Linked DNA regions of Homo sapiens: all the other regions are reported to be linked to region 1. The links are microRNA targets in miRTarBase. Many come from high-throughput screens and were not tested one by one. Region 1 holds a microRNA gene; each other region holds the end of a gene's coding sequence. Distances are from middle to middle.
The links. Region 1 holds the annotated microRNA hsa-miR-6821-3p (UGACCUCUCCGCUCCGCACAG, at 1,563-1,583, opposite strand). A microRNA usually pairs through its seed, bases 2 to 8, with sites in the 3' UTR of a target mRNA and lowers its output. Matches are read on the target gene's strand: a 7mer-m8 pairs with bases 2 to 8, a 7mer-A1 pairs with bases 2 to 7 and ends in A, and an 8mer does both.

Region 2: the mRNA of SPIRE2 is a reported target of hsa-miR-6821-3p. Seed matches in the 3' UTR shown: 7mer-A1 at 1,056-1,062.
Region 3: miRTarBase lists SLC1A5 as a target of hsa-miR-6821-3p. The part of its 3' UTR that is shown has no 7-base or 8-base seed match.
Region 4: the mRNA of MYADM is a reported target of hsa-miR-6821-3p. Seed matches in the 3' UTR shown: 7mer-A1 at 1,667-1,673.
Region 5: the mRNA of STOML1 is a reported target of hsa-miR-6821-3p. Seed matches in the 3' UTR shown: 7mer-m8 at 2,396-2,402.
Region 6: miRTarBase lists PPM1F as a target of hsa-miR-6821-3p. Seed matches in the 3' UTR shown: 8mer at 539-546 and 7mer-m8 at 2,747-2,753.

Annotation. Positions count from the first base shown.
Region 1 is chr22:49,961,404-49,964,501 of GRCh38, reverse strand. It overlaps MIR6821 (microRNA 6821), which reads right to left and starts at 1,636; the gene lies at 1,563-1,636. PIM3 (Pim-3 proto-oncogene, serine/threonine kinase) reads right to left here. Exons shown (of 6, transcript NM_001001852.4): 4 at 2,691-3,060; 5 at 1,637-1,813; 6 at 430-1,562. The coding sequence ends at 1,375. RefSeq lists silencers at 1,868-2,387, 2,518-2,567.
Region 2 is chr16:89,869,815-89,872,912 of GRCh38, forward strand. It overlaps SPIRE2 (spire type actin nucleation factor 2), which reads left to right. Exons shown (of 15, transcript NM_032451.2): 15 at 236-1,505. The coding sequence ends at 458. It overlaps LOC112268179 (a long non-coding RNA gene), which reads right to left. Exons shown (of 2, transcript XR_002957933.2): 2 at 563-2,107. Among named protein-coding and RNA genes, the nearest start is that of TCF25, 2.2 kb to the right of the region's middle. RefSeq lists an enhancer at 2,536-3,098.
Region 3 is chr19:46,772,837-46,775,921 of GRCh38, reverse strand. SLC1A5 (solute carrier family 1 member 5) reads left to right here. Exons shown (of 8, transcript NM_005628.3): 8 at 175-1,039. The coding sequence ends at 412. Among named protein-coding and RNA genes, the nearest start is that of SLC1A5, 14 kb to the left of the region's middle.
Region 4 is chr19:53,873,918-53,877,015 of GRCh38, reverse strand. It overlaps MYADM (myeloid associated differentiation marker), which reads right to left. Exons shown (of 3, transcript NM_138373.5): 3 at 581-3,098. The coding sequence ends at 2,518. Among named protein-coding and RNA genes, the nearest start is that of MYADM-AS1, 6.4 kb to the right of the region's middle.
Region 5 is chr15:73,981,089-73,984,186 of GRCh38, forward strand. STOML1 (stomatin like 1) reads right to left here. Exons shown (of 7, transcript NM_004809.5): 7 at 1-3,042. The coding sequence ends at 2,849. Among named protein-coding and RNA genes, the nearest start is that of STOML1, 9.7 kb to the right of the region's middle. RefSeq lists an enhancer at 744-933.
Region 6 is chr22:21,920,251-21,923,348 of GRCh38, reverse strand. PPM1F (protein phosphatase, Mg2+/Mn2+ dependent 1F) reads left to right here. Exons shown (of 8, transcript NM_014634.4): 8 at 1-3,098. The coding sequence ends at 257. Among named protein-coding and RNA genes, the nearest start is that of PPM1F-AS1, 16 kb to the left of the region's middle. RefSeq lists enhancers at 1,467-2,125, 2,787-3,098.

The DNA.
Region 1 (3,098 bases):
CCCCCACCCCCCCGCACGTCTCTGTTTCCACCAAGCCAGGATGCAAGTATGGCCATTTCCACTGGCAAGGCCTCCCTGGGTGGGGGCTGCAGAGATCCTCCTGGGACCACCGAGGAATGACCTCCTGACTAGTGTGGGTTGCTGCATCCTCAGGGCCTGGCTCCCTGCCTCCACCTCCCAGAGGCACCCCAGGAGGCAGCTGCTCTTCTCCCTGGGTGCAGCACGGGGTAGTGCGGTGGGCCACAAGCCACATGAAGTAGCCTGTGGCACTGGGGAGGCTGGCACCCAGCTGGGCCTCCCCCGTTTCCCCCGTGGGCAAAACTACCAGCCCCACGGGAAACTTGTCAGGTCACCCAGCAGCCAAAGCCCTTCCTCAGAGCCCCTCTCTTCCCCCAGGATGCCCAGCCCCATAAATACAGGATTATCCACTATGTACAAAAACATTTTAATTGAAATACCTGTATAAAAAAATATGATCTCCAGACATCTCACTTTTGAACTGAAAGAACCCCCATCTGCGATGCCTGCACACACCGCATTCACACAAACACAGGTACTGAATAAATTAAACGCTCAGGCTCTGGCCCCACCCCAGCTTTCAGAGCCCACAAGCAGACTGTACAAAGTCAATAATTTAAAACCCAAACCCTGGGCACAGTGCCTGGAAGTGTCAGGGTCACCCACTCCCCTTAAGTTAGCCACTATACATGTTCATCTTCTGACAGGCGGGGCCGGGACAGACGCCAGGCACAGGAATCAGGGCCTGGGGTCCCTGGACCACAGCCACCCCCTCCCCTGCCTCCCCACTGTCCCCTGGGGCTTGGGAGAGGCAGACTGCTCAGAGGAAATAACCTCAACAAATAAATTAAACAATAAATAGCCCCGGTGGGCCGAGGGCACCTCCAGGGGGTCACACCATAAATAACAGAGTTGGCGGCGGGTACGGCTCGCGTGGGCGGGCGGGCGCGGAGGCCAGGACTTGCATTGTGTGTGCAGGACGTGCCCAGACGCACACCGCAGGACTGAGGGCGGGAGGTGGGCTTGGGACCCTGCGCCGGCGGAAAGAGCTCCGGGTGGGCAGGCAGATGGGAAGGCCGCCTCCGGACACAGCAGCACAGAGGGGCGTCTGGGGTTCAAGTATCCACCCAGGGCAGGCGGGACCTCGACCGGAGCGTCTTTGGACAGACAGAGCTTGAGAAAACCAAGTCCCGCGGGACCAGCGTTCAAAAGGCACTCAAAGCGAAGGTCACCAGGGGTCAGAGGTCACTGCTTCCGCAGGAGGAGACGGCCCACGCAGGAGAAAGTCAGGGTCTGGGGGCGTCCCAGGTCTGGCCAAGGCAGGTGGTCCCCTAGCTCCCAGTCAGGTGCAGCTCCTCACAAGCTCTCGCTGCTGGACGTGGTGCTGGCCACGTCATCAGGGTCGAGGGTGCACAGCCGCAGGTCACAGCTCTCCGGGACGCCCCCGTCAGCCCCCAGCATCCAGGGATGGGCCGCAATCTGATCCAGCGACGGCCGCTCTGAGGGCCGCAGGGACAGGCACCACCGGATCAGCTGCTGGCACTCTGTGCGGAGCGGAGAGGTCAGGGAGGGCCCAAGCAGGGCGAGGCCCCCACCCCCGCCTCGAGCCACCACGCACCTGGAGAGACCCTCCTCCGGAAGAGCAGGCGGCCTCGGAGGATCTCCTCGTCCTGCTCGAAGGGGATGTCCCCACACACCATATCGTAGAGAAGCACGCCCAGCGACCACACGGTGGCCGAGCGCCCGTGGTAGCGGTGGTAGCGGATCCACTCCGGGGGGCTGTACACTCGGGTGCCTAAGGGGACACAGGGCTTAGCACGCCCACCACAGAGGCAGAGCCGCTCAACAGACGGCGAGGTCCCTGCTGGTTAACTCCCTGGCCTCAGTAACAGGAAGCAGAGCCAGGCCTCAAAATCCTGCTCGTCATCACCCTGGAAAAACCCCGGCAGGCGATGGGGGGGCTGGGGGAGGGGCCGGCCGTCCCCCTCCGCCGGCCGCGGGGGAGGAGCAGGTCACATGAGTAAGAGCTCGGCTTTCACAACAAACAGATGCGCTGTGAGGCTACCTGGGTGGGGGGGGGACAGCGCGGGTCCCTTACCGCCCGGCGCGCCTGCCTGCGGGAACGGGGGGAGGGGAGAGAGGGAGGGAGGAGGGAGGGGCGGGCGGGGAGCCCCGGCTTCCCCAAGCTCCGCAATGCGGGGATTTCTGCCGCCGCGCCCCCGCGCTCCGCACGCACGCAGCTCCCGCCCCCACGCAGGGGAGGCCCCGCCACTCCAACCGCGCCGCGGGGGCCTCCAGGCTCCCGGCGCAGACCCAGCCCGGCTGCGCCCTGCGTCACGCACGGAGACTCCTCCGCTACCGCCCCCAGCCGGGGGTCTCTCGGGCCGGAAGGATGTCACGCGCCTCCCACACCGGGGCAAGAGGCCCCGTACCCCCCAACGCGATGGAGGAAGCAATATTGAGCGCGCCCCTAGCCCCCACCCAGCACGATCCCGCTCTTGATCCCTCGCTCAGCCCTCCCCAGGGTAGCGCGTGGGCCTCTGCTCCCCACGAGAGCAGACCCAGGGCGCGCGGCCGCCCAACAGTCATCAGCCCCTCCATGTGCCGCCCCTGCAGGCGTTAACCCGCCGGCAAGGCCCCCGGAACGTTCCCTGCCCCGCGCCCGCGCTCACCGTCGAAGTCGGTGTAGACCGTGTCCTTGAGCAGCGCACCCGAACCGAAGTCGATGAGCTTGAGCTCTCCGGAGCGCAGGTCCACAAGCAGATTTTCGTCCTTAATGTCGCGGTGCACGACCCCGCAGCTGTGGCAGTGGCGCACGGCGGCCAGCACCTGCGCGAAGAAGCGGCGCGCCAGCGGCTCGTCCAGGGCGCCGCGCTCCGTGATAAAGTCGAAGAGGTCCTGCGCCGGCTCGGGCCGCTCCAGCACCAGCAGGAAGCCGTCGGGCCGCTCGAACCAGTCCAGCAGGCGGATGACGCCGCGCGCGCCGCCCGCCGCGCCCACCTTGCGCAGCAGCACCACCTCCAGGGGCACGGTCGCGCCGCCCTGGGGGACACGGCGGTCAGCAAAAGCCCCGCGCCCGC
Region 2 (3,098 bases), not on the chromosome of region 1:
ACGGATCGTTGTGTAGGGCTCTGGGAGGCTGAGCAGTATGAGATGGAAACTGGACTTGGGTGGTCAGGGAACAGTCTGCTGAGATGAACACTGCTAGCTGTGTTTGTTGCCTGAGGGCCAAGGGGAGGCCTAGGGTGAAAGGCAGCCAGGAGGGGGCTGTGGCATGCACAAGCAGGGAGGGGGGTGTGGCACCCTGGCTGGCTCCTCTCCCTGAGTGCCCTCTCCCACTTCCCAGGTCTCTGCAAGGGCCACAGTGGCAGAGCGTGGAGGAGGCGTTCCCCCACATCTACTCCCACGGCTGTGTCCTGAAGGATGTCTGCAGTGAGTGCACCAGCTTTGTGGCAGACGTGGTGCGTTCCAGCCGCAAGAGCGTGGACGTCCTCAACACTACGCCACGACGCAGTCGCCAGACCCAATCCCTCTACATCCCTAACACCAGGACTCTTGACTTCAAGTGACAGCCCCAGGTGGCCAGGCCTCCAGGAGGCACCAGGCAGGCCCTGTATCAGGCTAGGACGCTCTGAGCTGTGCATGTACATATATACATATATAGATACATTTATAATATATACACACAGTCTATATATTTATATACACTGTTTCCTGGCCCCAGAGCTCATTTGGGTTCAGGCGCACTTCAAAACCCTCCCTGGGGGAGGCTGTTTCTTCTCAGGATTCCTTGCCAGGGAGGAAGGGGAGGGAACAGGGTGGGTTTTCTCACTGAAGAGAGAAAGCAGAAGGTTCTAGATCCTGGCACAGACTGCATCCCATGTTCCCATGCTCTTCTCCGTCCCCAGGAATGCGAACGGCAGTTTCCCTTCCCCAGTGGACGTCTAGGTGGGGACAGGGTATCTTGGCTCCCAGCTGGACCAGAGTGCCCTGCTTGCCTCTGCTCTCCCTTTGTGGGGACTCAGGCAGCAGAGGCATCTGGGAAGTCTCTGAGTAGGCAGGGTCCTCCTGGGAGGCACCCCCACCTGTTTGAAAGGTCTGGCCAGGCGTGGTGGTTCAGGCCTGTAATTCCAGCACTTTGGGAGGCCGAGGAGGGAGGATCACCTGAGGTCAGGAGTTTGAGACCAGCCTGGCCAACATGATGAAATGTTGTCTCTACTGAAAATGCAAAAATTAGCCAGGTATAGTGGCAGGAACCTGTAATCCCAGCTACAGGGGAGGCTGAGGCAGGAGAATCGCTTGAACCCGGGAGGTGTAGGTTGCAGTGAGCCGAGATTGCACCACTGCACTCCAGCCTGGGCGACAGAGCGAGACTCTGTCTCGAAAAAAAAAAAGGTCCGTGCCAAGCTGCTCCCTGCCCTTGCCCTTTCCCTTTCCCTGGGGTCCAAACCACATGTGTCCTGCCTCTCCTGGCCCTACCACATTCTGGTGCTGTCCTCACTCGCCCCTGGCCCAGAGGCTCCTGAAGATGCTGGGCGGTCCTGGCACAGGGAGGAGCAGCTCTGTAAATCTGTGCACATGGCCACTCTTGGCCTAATAAAGGAGGTCTCACAGTCTTCTGTCTGGGATGTGCGCTGAGGATTCACCCAGCATGGCATGTTCTCCCAAGGTTGAAGCTGGGCTTGAGGGGCCACCTGCCTTCCAGGACGAGGAAAGGCCTCCTGGCTTAGAGTCAGGTGCCCACCAGGCAAGGGCTCCAGGCCTGCTCTGTCCACGCAGCCCTGGCTGCCTCTACCAGCTTCGTGGTCCTGGCCACCATGGTCAGGGCTGCATGCGGACGGCACAGACTACTGCCCATCAGCTCCTCTGGCCACACCTGCTGGCCTGGGGGGTACTTTGGTCTCATTTCCCAGATCCGTATTCTCGTTCTCCAGGGAGAGGATCCACAGGGGCAGGAGGTGTGACTGCAGGCTCTAGACAGGCCCTGTGCCGAGTGCTGTCTGCTCACCTGCGCCCGGCTCAGCCTGTTAACGGGGCCCTGCCCTGCTCCTCCGTGACGTTCTGCCGTCATCTTACCTTACAGATGAGGGAACTGAGGCTCAACGAGGTCAAAGAATTTGGCCAAAGATACACAGCTCACCCAGAACTTTGACTCCAGGCTGTAATGCTAGCCGTGGGGCCTGGAGGTCAGAAGGGACAGGACTTGTAACTGATGGGCCTGCGGGAGAAAATACTCCTGTCAGCTGGGGTCCAGGAAATCCAAACACACAAAATTAGAGCCCCCAGTAAAAACAGCCAGCTTCTAGCATGCGTGTAAGCATTTCACGGACTCTCTGGCCTGTATTTTTATTCCTGTTTAAAAATAAGAAAACAGGCACAGAGAGGGTCAGGGAACTCCTCCGGTCACACAGCCAGCAATAAGCTAATGTGTAGTGCTTGGTAAGGACGACGGTTGTTCTGGTTCTACGGGGACTCACACTCCCTATCATGGGGAGACTGGGTTGTAATTCATACAGGAACACTTGGAAATGAAAGCCCACGTTAAAACCCTAAACCACGGCAGGTGCAGTGGCTCACACCTGTAATCCCAGCACTTTTGGAGGGTGAGGTGGGCAGATCACTTGAGGTCAGGAGTTCGAGACCAGCCTGGCCAACATGGTGAAACCCCATCTCTACTGAGTACAAAAATTAGCCGGGCATGGTGGCACATGCCTGTAGTCCCAGCTACTCGGGAGGCTGAGACAGGAGAAGTGCTTGAGCCTGGGAGATGGAGGTTGCAGTGAGCCGAGATTGCGCCACTGCACTCCAGCCTGGGCAACAGAGCAAGACCTCATCTCACAAAATAAAATAAAACCCTAACCCATCCTGGGAGGGGCCAGGCCGGCTCACCAGGGCTGCTGCTTGTGCTCATGAAGCCGCAGTAAGTCGGGCAGGAGGCTGCTGGCACCTGTCTTCTCTATGCCCTCCTGTCCCCATGTCCCCAACCCCAGGCACAGGAAGCTGTGCCCTCCGCCCACTGAACCCAGCACTGTCTCAGCCTCATCTACTTTATTTTTTTCATTTTTTTGAGACAGGGTCTGGCTCTGTCGCCCAGGCTGGAGTGCAGTGGCGCGATCTCGGCTCACTGCAGCCTCAGCCTCCCGAGTAGCTGGGATTACAGGCGTGCGCAGCCACGCCCAGCTAATTTTTGTATTTTTAGTAGAGGGAGT
Region 3 (3,085 bases), not on the chromosome of region 1:
TTTTAAATATATATAAAGATGGGATCTCACTATGTTGCCCAGGCTGACTCCAACTCTTAATTTTTACTTTTTAGATTCCAGGGGGAGAGAGGCAGGAGGCTTAGGCCTTGGCCCTTTCCTTCCCTCTCACCCTCTCCCCTCCCGCTTACTTTGCTGTCATTTCTACCCCTTTAGCGACCGGTCCTGTACCGTCCTCAATGTAGAAGGTGACGCTCTGGGGGCAGGACTCCTCCAAAATTACGTGGACCGTACGGAGTCGAGAAGCACAGAGCCTGAGTTGATACAAGTGAAGAGTGAGCTGCCCCTGGATCCGCTGCCAGTCCCCACTGAGGAAGGAAACCCCCTCCTCAAACACTATCGGGGGCCCGCAGGGGATGCCACGGTCGCCTCTGAGAAGGAATCAGTCATGTAAACCCCGGGAGGGACCTTCCCTGCCCTGCTGGGGGTGCTCTTTGGACACTGGATTATGAGGAATGGATAAATGGATGAGCTAGGGCTCTGGGGGTCTGCCTGCACACTCTGGGGAGCCAGGGGCCCCAGCACCCTCCAGGACAGGAGATCTGGGATGCCTGGCTGCTGGAGTACATGTGTTCACAAGGGTTACTCCTCAAAACCCCCAGTTCTCACTCATGTCCCCAACTCAAGGCTAGAAAACAGCAAGATGGAGAAATAATGTTCTGCTGCGTCCCCACCGTGACCTGCCTGGCCTCCCCTGTCTCAGGGAGCAGGTCACAGGTCACCATGGGGAATTCTAGCCCCCACTGGGGGGATGTTACAACACCATGCTGGTTATTTTGGCGGCTGTAGTTGTGGGGGGATGTGTGTGTGCACGTGTGTGTGTGTGTGTGTGTGTGTGTGTGTGTGTGTGTTCTGTGACCTCCTGTCCCCATGGTACGTCCCACCCTGTCCCCAGATCCCCTATTCCCTCCACAATAACAGAAACACTCCCAGGGACTCTGGGGAGAGGCTGAGGACAAATACCTGCTGTCACTCCAGAGGACATTTTTTTTAGCAATAAAATTGAGTGTCAACTATTTAATCAGGTGTTCTTGAGAATTTGACTTAAAGCACTGGCCACTGCAATGACAGTATCTGCTCATCAAGAAACACCACTGGGCTGGGCATGGGGGCTCACACCTGTAATCCCAGCACTTTGAGATCACTCCAGGCCAGGAGTTCAAGACAAGCCTGGGCAACATAGTGAGACATCGTCTCTACAAAAAAATACAAAAATTAAGGCCGAGCACGGTGGCTCACACCTGTAATCCCAGCACTTTGGGAGGCCGAGGCGGGCGAATCACGAGGTCAGGAGTTCAAGATCAGCCTGGCCAACATGGTGAAACCCTGTCTCTACTAAAAATATAAAAATTAGCCAGACATGGTGGTGGGCGCCTGTAGTCCCAGCTACTCAGGAGGCTGAGGTAGGAGAATTGCTTGAACCCGGGAGGCAGAGGTTGCAGTGAGCCGAGATCGCACCACTGCACTCTAGCCCGGGTGAAAGAGCAAAACTCTGTCTCAAAAACAACACAAAAAATTAGGCAGGTGCAGTGGTGCACACCTGCAGTCCCAGCTACTCAGAAGTCTGCGGTGGGGAGGATTCCTTGAGCCCAGGAGTTTAAGGATGCAGTGACCCATGATCATGCCACTGCACTCCAGCCTGGGCAACAGAGTGAGACCCTGTCGCTTTTTTTTTTTTTTTTTTTTGAAACGGAGTCTGGCTCTGTTGTCTGGGCTGGAGTGCAGTGCAGTGGCACGATCTTGGCTCACTGCAACCTCCGCCTCCCAGGTTCAAGCGATTCTCCTGCCTCAGCCTCCGAAGTAGCTGGGACTACAGGTATCTGCCACCATGCCCAGCTAATTTTTGTATTTTTAGTAGAGACCGGTGCCTCAAGTGATCCACCCACCTTGGCCTCCCAAAGTGCTGGTATTACAGGCGTGAGCCACCACGCCCAGCCAGACCCTGTCTCTTAAACACCACGGGAAACCACAATGAGACACCACTATACACAGTAGAATGGCTGAATACAAGACCAAGGGAGGATGGGATACAACAGGACTCCTCATCTCTTGGTTGGTGCTCCCTTAGTAGATGGCTGAGTTGTTTTGGAAAATAACTGGGCAGTTTCTTAATAAAGTTAAAAAATACAGGCTGGGTGCAGTGGCTCACGCCTGTAATCCCAACACTTTGGGAGGCCGAGGTGGATGGATCACCTGAGGTCAGGAGTTCGAGACCAGCCTGGCCAACATGGTGAAACCCCGTCTCCACTAAAAATACAAAAATTAGCCGGGCGTGGTGGCACATGCCTGTAGTCCCAGCTACTTGGGAGGCTGAGGCAGGAGAATCGCTTGAACCCAGGAGGCAGAATGTTGCAGTGAGCCAAGATCTCACCATTGCACTCCAGTCTGGGTGACAAAAGCAAAACTCTGTCTCAAAAAAAAAAAAAAATATATATATATATAATATATATTTATTTACTATGCAGCTTAGGAGTTGCACTCCTGGGTATTTACCCAAGAGAAGTGAAAACTTTTGCTTTTACAAAAATGTGTCCACAAACGTTTAGCTGCTGTACTCATCATTGCCAAAATTTGGGAACAAATCAATTGGATACACTGGTACATTCATACAATGGAAGATTACTCAGCAATAAATAAGAGCGATATCGACCTACACTGCAACAGAAATGCATTTCAGATAATTTGTTGAGATAAAGAAGCCAGAGACGGTAAATACTGTATAGTTCCATTTAGAGGAGGGCTAGAACATGCTCAACTGGCCTATGGTGGGAAATCAGAACAGTGGTGACCTTTGAGAATGAATATGGGGCCAGGCACGGTGGCTTCATGCCTGTAATCCTAGCACTTTGGGAGGCCGAGGTGGGCGGATCATGAGGTCAGGAGATCGAGACCATCCTGGCTAATATGGTGAAACCCCATCTCTACTAAAAATACAAAAAATTAGCAGGGCATGGTGGCGGGCGCCTGTAATCCTAGCTACTCTGGAGGCTGAGGCAGGAGAATGTGGTGAACCCAGGGGGCGGAGCTTGCAGTGAGCCGAGATTGTGCCACTGCACTCCAGCCTGGG
Region 4 (3,098 bases), not on the chromosome of region 1:
ATAGCTCAGGTGAAACAAAATGGAACTTGAGCTGGACCAGGAACCTGGAGAAGAGGGCGGTAGAAATGGTATTTAGGGGGAAGAATAGACAGTGTTTGATGAGGGACTGACTTGAGTAGACGGGGGGAAGGTACCACCATGTGCTTGGGTTCTCAGCTCTGAGAGGCTATTACTGAAATGGGGGGACCTGGGAGGACGAGGTGACTGGGGAGGAAAGCTCCTTCACTCAAATTAGGACGTTGTATTTGTGAGGTGCTCAGGGGACAGACTCCAAGGAGGGAGAAGTCTAGTTCATTTCTATCCCACCCAGCCCTCCTGGTTTGAGGAAGTCATTTAGAAGACCTAGATCCAGCTAGTATCTTCTGATGAGGCCAAGGTTGTCTTGGCACCAACCCTATTCTCCCACTAGACCCAAGAATCTGGCCCTTGCCCCTCTCCGAGAGTCCTCCCCCGCTTTTCTTTTTTATTTTTTTGTAGAGACGGGGTTTCACCATGTTGGCCAGGCTGGTCTCAAACTCCTGACCTCAAGTGATCCGCCCGCCGTGCTCGGCCGCCCTCCTCATTAAGAAAGCACAAGTCCTTCTTTTACCTTTATATTGATATTTAAAAGAAAAAGAACATGATGGATACGGGAATGGGGGAAGGGACAACGGTTCTACGATTAACAACAGGAACTGATAGGAACCAGAAGCTCCAGGGATTTAAAAAAAAATAAAATATATATTTATACATTTATATATATATATATATATATCACGTTATGTATGTGAGTCCCAGACAAGCAGGAAGCAGCAGCAAGAAGCAACTAGCACACAGAAACACCCGTGCGTGTGCACTACACATTCAAGCAAAGCCATTCCTCTAGCTAGGACGCAGCAATCCCCACCCTCCCACCTACGGGCAAAAGAGAACAGCTGAAAACAAACTTCCCTCTTTAAGGGCCACTCAGTAATTTTTGTCCTCATGGCCAGGAAAAAGAAAGAAAAACAAAACAAAACAGAAAAGGTCGATCTTGCCTTGAAAGCGGGCAGTGGCTATTTTCTTCTCTCTGCCAAAGCAGGACACGTTATTCTTAACACAGAGGGCCACATCGCTGTCCCTCACAAATACTTCAGACAGTTGTCTTCAACATCCTGTGGTTCTTCGTCCGATTCCTTTTTTTTTTTGAGATGGAGTCTCGCTCTGTCCCCCAGGCTGGAGCACAGTGGTGCCATCTTGACTTACTGCAACCTCCACCTCCCGGGTTGAAGGGATTCTCCTGTCTCAGTCCCCCCAAATACCTGGGATTACAGGCGCCCGCCACCACGCCCGGCTAATTTTTGTATTTTTAATAGAGACATGCTTTCACCATGTTGGCCAGGCTGGTCTTGAACTCCTGACTTCAGATGATTGCCTGACTTGGTCTCCCAAAGTGCTGGGATTACAGGCGTGAGCCACCACGCCCGGCCCCGACTCCTTCTTTTTTTTTTTTTTTCTTTTTGATACCACAGAGAATAGTTGGGATGAAAGGCATCCAGCCCCTGCTTCCTTTAAGATGGCCTCTAGGCAGTGGGTGTTCTGTAAGCCTGGCAAAAATTCTGGAGCCAATCTCTGGCAAGGCTGAGTGCCAGGCGGGGCCTAGGGACCCAGGGTCGGTGCTTAAAGCCTCCCGCCCATTGGAAATTACTGACCTCCAAATATATATATATATATGTTTTTTAATTTAAAGGGGAAGTACACTGCACACCTTCCTCCACTGGGAGAAAGAGGGCCCAATCCCCAGCTACCCACCCCCCACCCCCCAAACACACACACACACACACACACACACACACACGTACACACTGACTAAGGCACAGCGAGGGTGGGCAGGCATGCTTTGGCAATGGGGCCCCTTGGGGGGCTGTGGCATGGACGGCTGCAAGGGGTGTGGATGTGAGCTCAGCACCTTTGGAGGTGGGTGGAGGCAAGGAGAGAAAGAAGTCTCAGGGCTCCCAAGGACACAGGAGAAGGTGCTTGCAAAACAGGCAGATAAGAAAGCCGACAGGCAACCCAGAAAAGAGATGAGAAAAAAGAAGAGTGGAAAAAGAGAAACAGGCTGGGTGCGGCAGCTCACACCTGTCCTCCCAGCTACTTGGGAGGCTGGGGCAGGAGAATCGCTTGAACCCAGGAGGCGGGGGTTGCAGTGAGTCGAGATCGCACCACTGCACTCCAGCCTGGGCCACAGAGTGAGAATCCGTCTTAAAAAAAAAAAAAAAAAAAAAAGAAAAGAAAAAGAGAAACAGCTCAGGGGTGAAAACAGGATGTGGGCAACAAAACAACACAGGAAGGAAACAGCAAGAGGAAAGGGAAGGAAGAAGATGCATCCAAGAACTGGTTAGAGTGCAAGGAATTGGGAAGGAAAGAAAAAGGTGGGAGGGAGGGGAGACAGGAAGAGGAAAACAGAGGAAAGGCGGAGGAAAGAAGTACTCCATAAAGAAAACTCGGGCAAGAAGAACAAAGAGGTTGGAGAGGGAACGGGAGCCTCTTGGGAGAGTCTTAGACCTTGACAAAAACCAGGTGGGCAGAGTGCACCAGGTCAGCCACATACGCCAGTAGGTTGATGGCCGTCAGGATGGCCACAGCCAGTCGGCGGTCCCAGGCACACACGTAGTAGGCATGGCTGCGGCTGCAGCTTACATCTCTCGAGCGCCGAGGCTGGCCGCCATACTTCTCATCGAACTGGTAGAGGGGCCAGAGAACAAGGGCGGTGGCATAGAGGAGGACAGACAGCAAGGCCAGCCCCGACAGGAAGCTGGGGAAGGGGATGGGTAGCACGTTGGTGCACTCCCCCAGGTTCAGCAGGATGGCGATGGCCGCTAGGATGAAGCAGATGGCGTACACCGCCACGCACCACTCCAGGGCCGGCTGGTGCTGGTACAGGTTGGGGTCGCTGATGAACGCGAAGATGATGCAGGCAACGAAGGTCTCCAGCACCTTCAGCAGCCCGGGTACGGTGGCCATATAGCCAGTGATCTCGCCGGGCCGGGCCCGGGTCCAGGCCACTTCGGTGGCGTAAGCCACACACGCGATGCAGGAGAAGAAGGTGGCGGCGATGGCGTGGTCCCGCGAACGGCCGT
Region 5 (3,098 bases), not on the chromosome of region 1:
CTCACACCTATAATCCCAGCACTTTGGGAGGCCTAGGCAGGCAGATCACTTGAGGTCAGGAGTTCGAGACCAGCCTGGTCAACATGGTGAAATCCCATCTCTACTAAAAATACAAAAATTAACCAGGTGTGGTGGTATGCGCCTATAATCCTGGCTACTCAGGTGTCTGAGGCAGGAGAATCACTTGAATCCGGGAGGTAGAGGTTGCAGTGAGCTGAGATTGTACTGTACTCTAACATGGGCAACAGAGTAAGACTCTTGTTTCAAAAAAAAATAAAATACTTTTCAATAACATCAAAATAACACATTATATATTAATATATTAACTAGGATACTTAAACTATTATCATTATTCACCAGGTTATCTTGAAGAAAAATATAATAAGAAGTGTCTAGTCCGGTATAAGGACATATTTGGCACACAGTAATGGTTACTATTTCTATACCCTGCCCCTCAAATGCCCGCACACAACCTGTCTGGTACTTCAGGTTCTAGTTCCCCGAAGCCCAGTTGCCTGACTGCCTCTTCCAGCTGTGCCCTTGCAGGGACTTCTCCTCTGCTGAATGATTTTCCCCATCTCTTCTTATTGTCCACCTACTTGGTAGCTGGGATGTGGAGGACATCACCTCCTCAGGAAAGCCTTCTCTGATTGACACACACCCTCCTCCTCCCTCTTCACACCGACCCTTTAGGTGGCCCTTGTCCTTCCTCCCCTGTGGACTGCAGGGTCTGCTCAGTCCTCTGTAGTCCTGGAGTGCTGGCCAAGGATCGAGCTCCCCTCCACAGGGTGGGGATTCATGGCAGGGGCAGGCCTTACTCTCCACCTACACAGACATCCAGAAAAGTTTCGGTTTCCCCTAAACGTTATGTTGATCTTCCCATGCTCACAAAGAAGAGTTTGGGTTTCCCCTAAGTTGTGATCTCATTTTTCCTGTCTTCCCTACCCTCCAGCCCTACCCCAGCCAAGGGGCCGTGCCAGCTTTCATGGTGAAGATGCCTGGGGTTTCCTGGGCAGCCCTTCATATACTGTGTAATAGCAATGGAAGGAATCCACAGGTGAATGCTGATGCAGGAAGCTCCCAGTCCAGCAGGGAGGGCAGCCATATATGCAAGGAGCAGAAACACACAATGTGGAATGGGTGCAGAGAGCCAGGCAAGGGCACAGAGGACAAGTCTCACTGGGCCTCAAAGGGTGGCCACAGTGTGGCTGCGGGGATTGGAGGGCAGGCTTTGGAACAGACAGCCTCAGCTAGAAAGCCCTGGGAGGGCCCATGAGAGGCCTCCAAGTAGGCAAAGGGGCAACAGCAGGTGCAGCAGCCTGGGACTCTAGGAAGGGGCCCTGGAAACCTGAACCTCAATGGCCATGGCAGTGACAGAGGGGTCTGTGCTGGGCTTTAGGGAGGTGCCTCAGGCAATGTGGAGGACCTCCAGGAGGCGGGACAAGGCAGTGTCTGGCAAAGGCAGGGACAGACAGCAAACAAGACAGAGCCAGGCACCCAGGAAGGGCAGAGACCCCTTGGGGGAGAGGGAAGTTGCGGTGCCACAGGACAGGCTGGGGGCTGTTCTTAAGGGGAGGCTTTGATTTTTGTGGTTTTGTTTTTCCCAGAAGTCTCTCCAAGGAGTAAGATTCCTTTCTTAGGACTCAAGAAGTCAGAGGCCCCCTTCTCTGGGGCCCCTGGGGTTTGGGCGAGAGTACTGGAGCAGAAAGCAGGGCTGGGCTGGGCCTGGGGCCAGACCTCAATGACTGTTTCCTTCCCGTCAGCGAGCGGAGAAGCAGTGACAGAGTGTACCAGGAGGGGAAGCTGACGGTGGCCCCAACTCCTCTCTTGAATGGGATATGACCACCCCACCTGCCCCTCAGTGTTTGCAGGACACTCTGGCACACTCATGCCTTCCTTTCCTGGTGAACCTGTATCCCACTACAAAGAGGAACAGAACTCCCCACCCAGCCCCACCCTTGCTTCCAGGGGCTTTGAGACACTCAGGAGAAGGAGCTTCAAATATTGTGAGGGTCTGTCTGTGTCAGCCACCAGGATGTCAATCCCTGCCTGGGCTGGCAGCATGGACCTTGTGGACCCTCCTAGCCCACCCCATGCCCCCAGGAGCCCCGCTTGGCTTCTTCTCTTTTATACATTGTAAACACCACATTTATTTGTCTGAGGCTTGCAAACCTCTGGTAAGAAGCACAGAACGCAGGGCTCTCCTTCATGCTGCCCTGGGCCCCAGCTCGCCAGGCATGCAGGACAGAGCTGGCAGATGAGTCAGAAATCTTTGGGAGCAGCGCCAGGGAAGCAGCAGGCCCTGCTCCTTCCCATGCCCAATCCCGCCAGCACGGGCCTGGACTGCAGCCAGGAAGGTGGGCCAGCCAGGATCCCCAGGTAACTTCGCCACAGGGACCTCTTCTTGGAGCTGCCTTCCCTTCCCTCCCCATCCCTCTCCAATCCCCGCAGAGCTTAGAGCCTGGGCCACATGCTTGGTCCCTCACACAAGGACCAAACCAGCTGCTGTCAGGCTGTTTCTGTGGGTCCTGTCTCTCCAGTCAGGAAGCCAGCAGGGCAGGGCAGGCCTGGCTCTCCTCCTGGAATCACACCGTGCACCCAGCTCAGCGCTGGGCACTCAGCTGGGGACCGGGATGGACAAAGCCTTGTCCAGAGAACCACTGTAGGGGAGACGTGCATGGCAGCCGGACTCAGCCTCCTGCAGCCTCCATTCATGGGCTCTTGGCTGGGCCTGAAATTTGTTAGGGCCTCAACTCTCTGTGGTGCAGATGAACACCTCCTCCTCCAAGAGGCCCCTCAGGCTTGGTGCCAGGCTTGGGACTGGGCTCTGGAAAGTCAGCCAAGGCTGCTACTTCAAGGCCCTGAGGACAGCCTCCAGCTTCATGGCCATAGCCAGGTCGCCCTTCACCTTCAGCCGTCCACTCATGTAGGCCCCCAGGGGCCGCAGCTCTCTGCATAGCAGGGCCCGCAGGTCTGCCTCGGCCATCTCCACCACCACATCAGGGATGCCATCAGGCACCCCGTGTCCCACTCTTCCTCGTCCTGTGGGGCAAAAGAAAACCGAGTGTCAGTAGGGGAATGGAGGAACGTGAAGGAGA
Region 6 (3,098 bases), 28 Mb from region 1:
AAGTTGTTGGCCTGGTCCAGAGCCACCTGACCAGGCAGCAGGGCAGCGGGCTCCGTGTCGCCGAGGAGCTGGTGGCTGCGGCCCGGGAGCGGGGCTCCCACGACAACATCACGGTCATGGTGGTCTTCCTCAGGGACCCCCAAGAGCTGCTGGAGGGCGGGAACCAGGGAGAAGGGGACCCCCAGGCAGAAGGGAGGAGGCAGGACTTGCCCTCCAGCCTTCCAGAACCTGAGACCCAGGCTCCACCAAGAAGCTAGGTGGTTTCCAGGCCCCTGCCCTCCCCTTCCTCCCATCCTTGTCCTTCTCTCCCTCAGAAGCCTCAGGACCCAACAGGTGGCAGGCAGTGGACAGGGTGCCCGCCCCACAGTGCTTTCCCCAGCACCCCAGAGCCAGTCGGGACACCCCCCGCAGCCCGTCCTGGTGGCTGTGGAACTGCACTGGGTGGCGGGCAGATGGTGGAAGGCAGCTTAGGAGACCTCACCAAAGAGAAGATGGACCGGCTCTTGCTCCCAGCTCCTATTAGGCCCGGGGTGGGACCAGAGGTCATAGGTGCCCAACGGCAGCCAAACCAAAGACACTGGTGTGCATGGGGCAGCATGGTTGTGCACGTGGGACCCTGGGGCGGACCCAGGAGCCAAACTCTTGAAGCACCCCCTGGGTCAGGCCCAGCAGCGGAGTGGCCAGCCCCAGTTTCCCATTGCTCCTCTCTGCGGCCAGGGCCAGGTGGGTTCATATTTACAGATATGCCCAGCCAGTCCTGGTCGGCCACACCAGTGTCCCAAAGAGGAGAGCGCAGCAGAGCCAGGGGTCTGTTCTGTAGCAGCCACCCCCCTGCCCCCACTCCAGGGCAGCCATGATGTGCTTGGGCCCACCAGGGCCTTCCGGGCTGCTCTCTTCCCTGAGCCCGGAACCGGCGACGCACATGTGTCTTTTGTTGGTGTGTTTGTTTTTTTCCAGGGAGGTCTAATTCCGAAGCAGTATTCCAGGTTTTCTCTTTGTTTTATCAGTGCCAAGATGACCTGTTGTGTCATATAATTTAAGCAGAGCTTAGCATTTATTTTATTCTTTAGAAAACTTAAGTATTTACTTTTTTAAAGCTATTTTTCAAGGAACCTTTTTTTGCAGTATTATTGAATTTATTTTCTAAATCAGGATTGAAACAGGAACTTTTCCAGGTGGTGTTAATAAGCCATTCAAGTGCCTTACACAGCTTTGAAGAAACTAGGACTGCAGTGGGCTCGGATAGGCCCATTGAGGTTTTTAGAAAAGCAGGATTTGTTTTGTTAGGGAGGCATGATTTTGGTGAGATCTTTCTGGAAGAGTTTTCCGCCTCTTTGTGATGCTGAACACCCCCAAGGTTCTCCCCTCCCCCCGCTGCCCAGGTGACTGGCAGGAGCTGCGACTGCCACGTAGTGGTGCCTGGGCCCGACAGCGGGGCTCTGGGCATCCCGGGTGACCTTGGCCCATCTGCCTGCATTCCCACCCCCTTGGGCCTGGCTGGATCCCAGGCAGAGGGACCTTGCTGCTGTGTGATTGGAACATTCCCAAATATCTTGTGAATTTGTAATCAAATTGGTCTCATTGGGAAAGACTCTTAATTAAGAGGCTCAGGCAAGCACAGAGGCAGCCCGTGGGTCTCTGTCTCAGTCTGGAGGCAGCAGGGATGCTGCTGGGAGTCCATGGCACAGGCCACAGCCCCTCACCTTGCCGCGGTGGCTGGCAGCACGCCTGCCTTGCTCTGCCCCATGCCCTGAACAGGCATGAGAGCTCCACGTCCCCTAGTGCACCCTGAGAGGGGGCTCACAAGTGACCGATCCTGGGTGCCTCAGGGAGCTCACTGAGGGCGTGCAAAGTTGAAAGTGGCAAGGCTGGGGGAGGGTGTCGGGTAGAGGGAAGAGGGCAGGGGGCTAGGGGAGGACTCAGAGGCCATCTGCAGGGCCAAGCCACAGGAAGGGCTGAGCTGGAGGTGGGCAGGGCTGCTCCAGGCAGGTCAGAGCAGTGCAGGGGGAGGAGAGGAGAAAGGGAGGAAGCTGGGCTGTGTGGTCCCCATGAAGGCATTCAGAGTCCACCTGCAGACAGCGAGAGCCCCAGGAAGGTTTGCACAGCTGTGCCCCAAGCACCTTGGCCTCCTCTCAGCTCGCCGAGGAGGCACGCTAGAGCCGCCTTCCCGGTGGGAGCCCTCTGTCCCACAGGGAGCGGGGAGCCAGCTTTGCTGGGGCCCTACCTGCATGCCCAGCCTTACCCCTCATTCTCACAGCACAGATGAGGTTGAGACCATGCAGTCAATGCATTGCTTAAGGTCTCTTATTTACAAAAAAAAACCTTAAACATAGTCGCTGTCATTCAGACATTCAGAGAATGGTTGGCCACAAACAATGACCAAGTATTGCTTGGCTTAACTTGAAGGCCTGCTGTCTCCTTCTGGGGGTCAGGGACGCAGCTCCACCCTCACCACTAGCCCACCCTGCCCGTGGGCATAACCTTGACGAAGAGAGAGAATGATTGGCATCTGCTTTTCTCTTTTCTTTGCTAATAATTCTGTTCCTGGCTGCCGAGAGTGAAGTTTCACCATGTGGAGGTTTGGCTCCTATCACCTGGTGGTCTGATTCATACCCTAGCCTGAGGCTCCACTGGAAGATCTCGCAGCCTCAGTGTATGGGAAACCCTTTCCCCAGGCTTGTCCCAGCACTGCCGCTCCCCACCCCTGAGCCAGGACCCCAGAGGATGGCCATGCCCCGTGCCTGGCAGAGGTCTGGTGCCAGCACTGGGAGCTGCTCCGCCCTTGCCTTGGGGCCGAGGGAGCCCTCGTCCACCCCTGCACAGCAGCTGGGCACAGAGGAGCGCTCTTCCATCTTGACCAGGACTGCACCAAGAAGCACCAGGTGTCTTCAGCCTCCAACCTCCGGGGCGACCTTCTCTTCCAGCCACAGTCCCATGAGGGCCCCTAGCCAGGGACACTGGTCTGTAAATTGTAATCCTTTCTCCAGCCCAGCTCTCCACTTGTTCCTTGTGTGAGCTGAGCAGGCAGTGCACCTCTGAGTGTCCCTTTTGTAAGGCCCAGGGGTTGCACTGAGTCTGCAGAGGCCGCGACCTCCTAG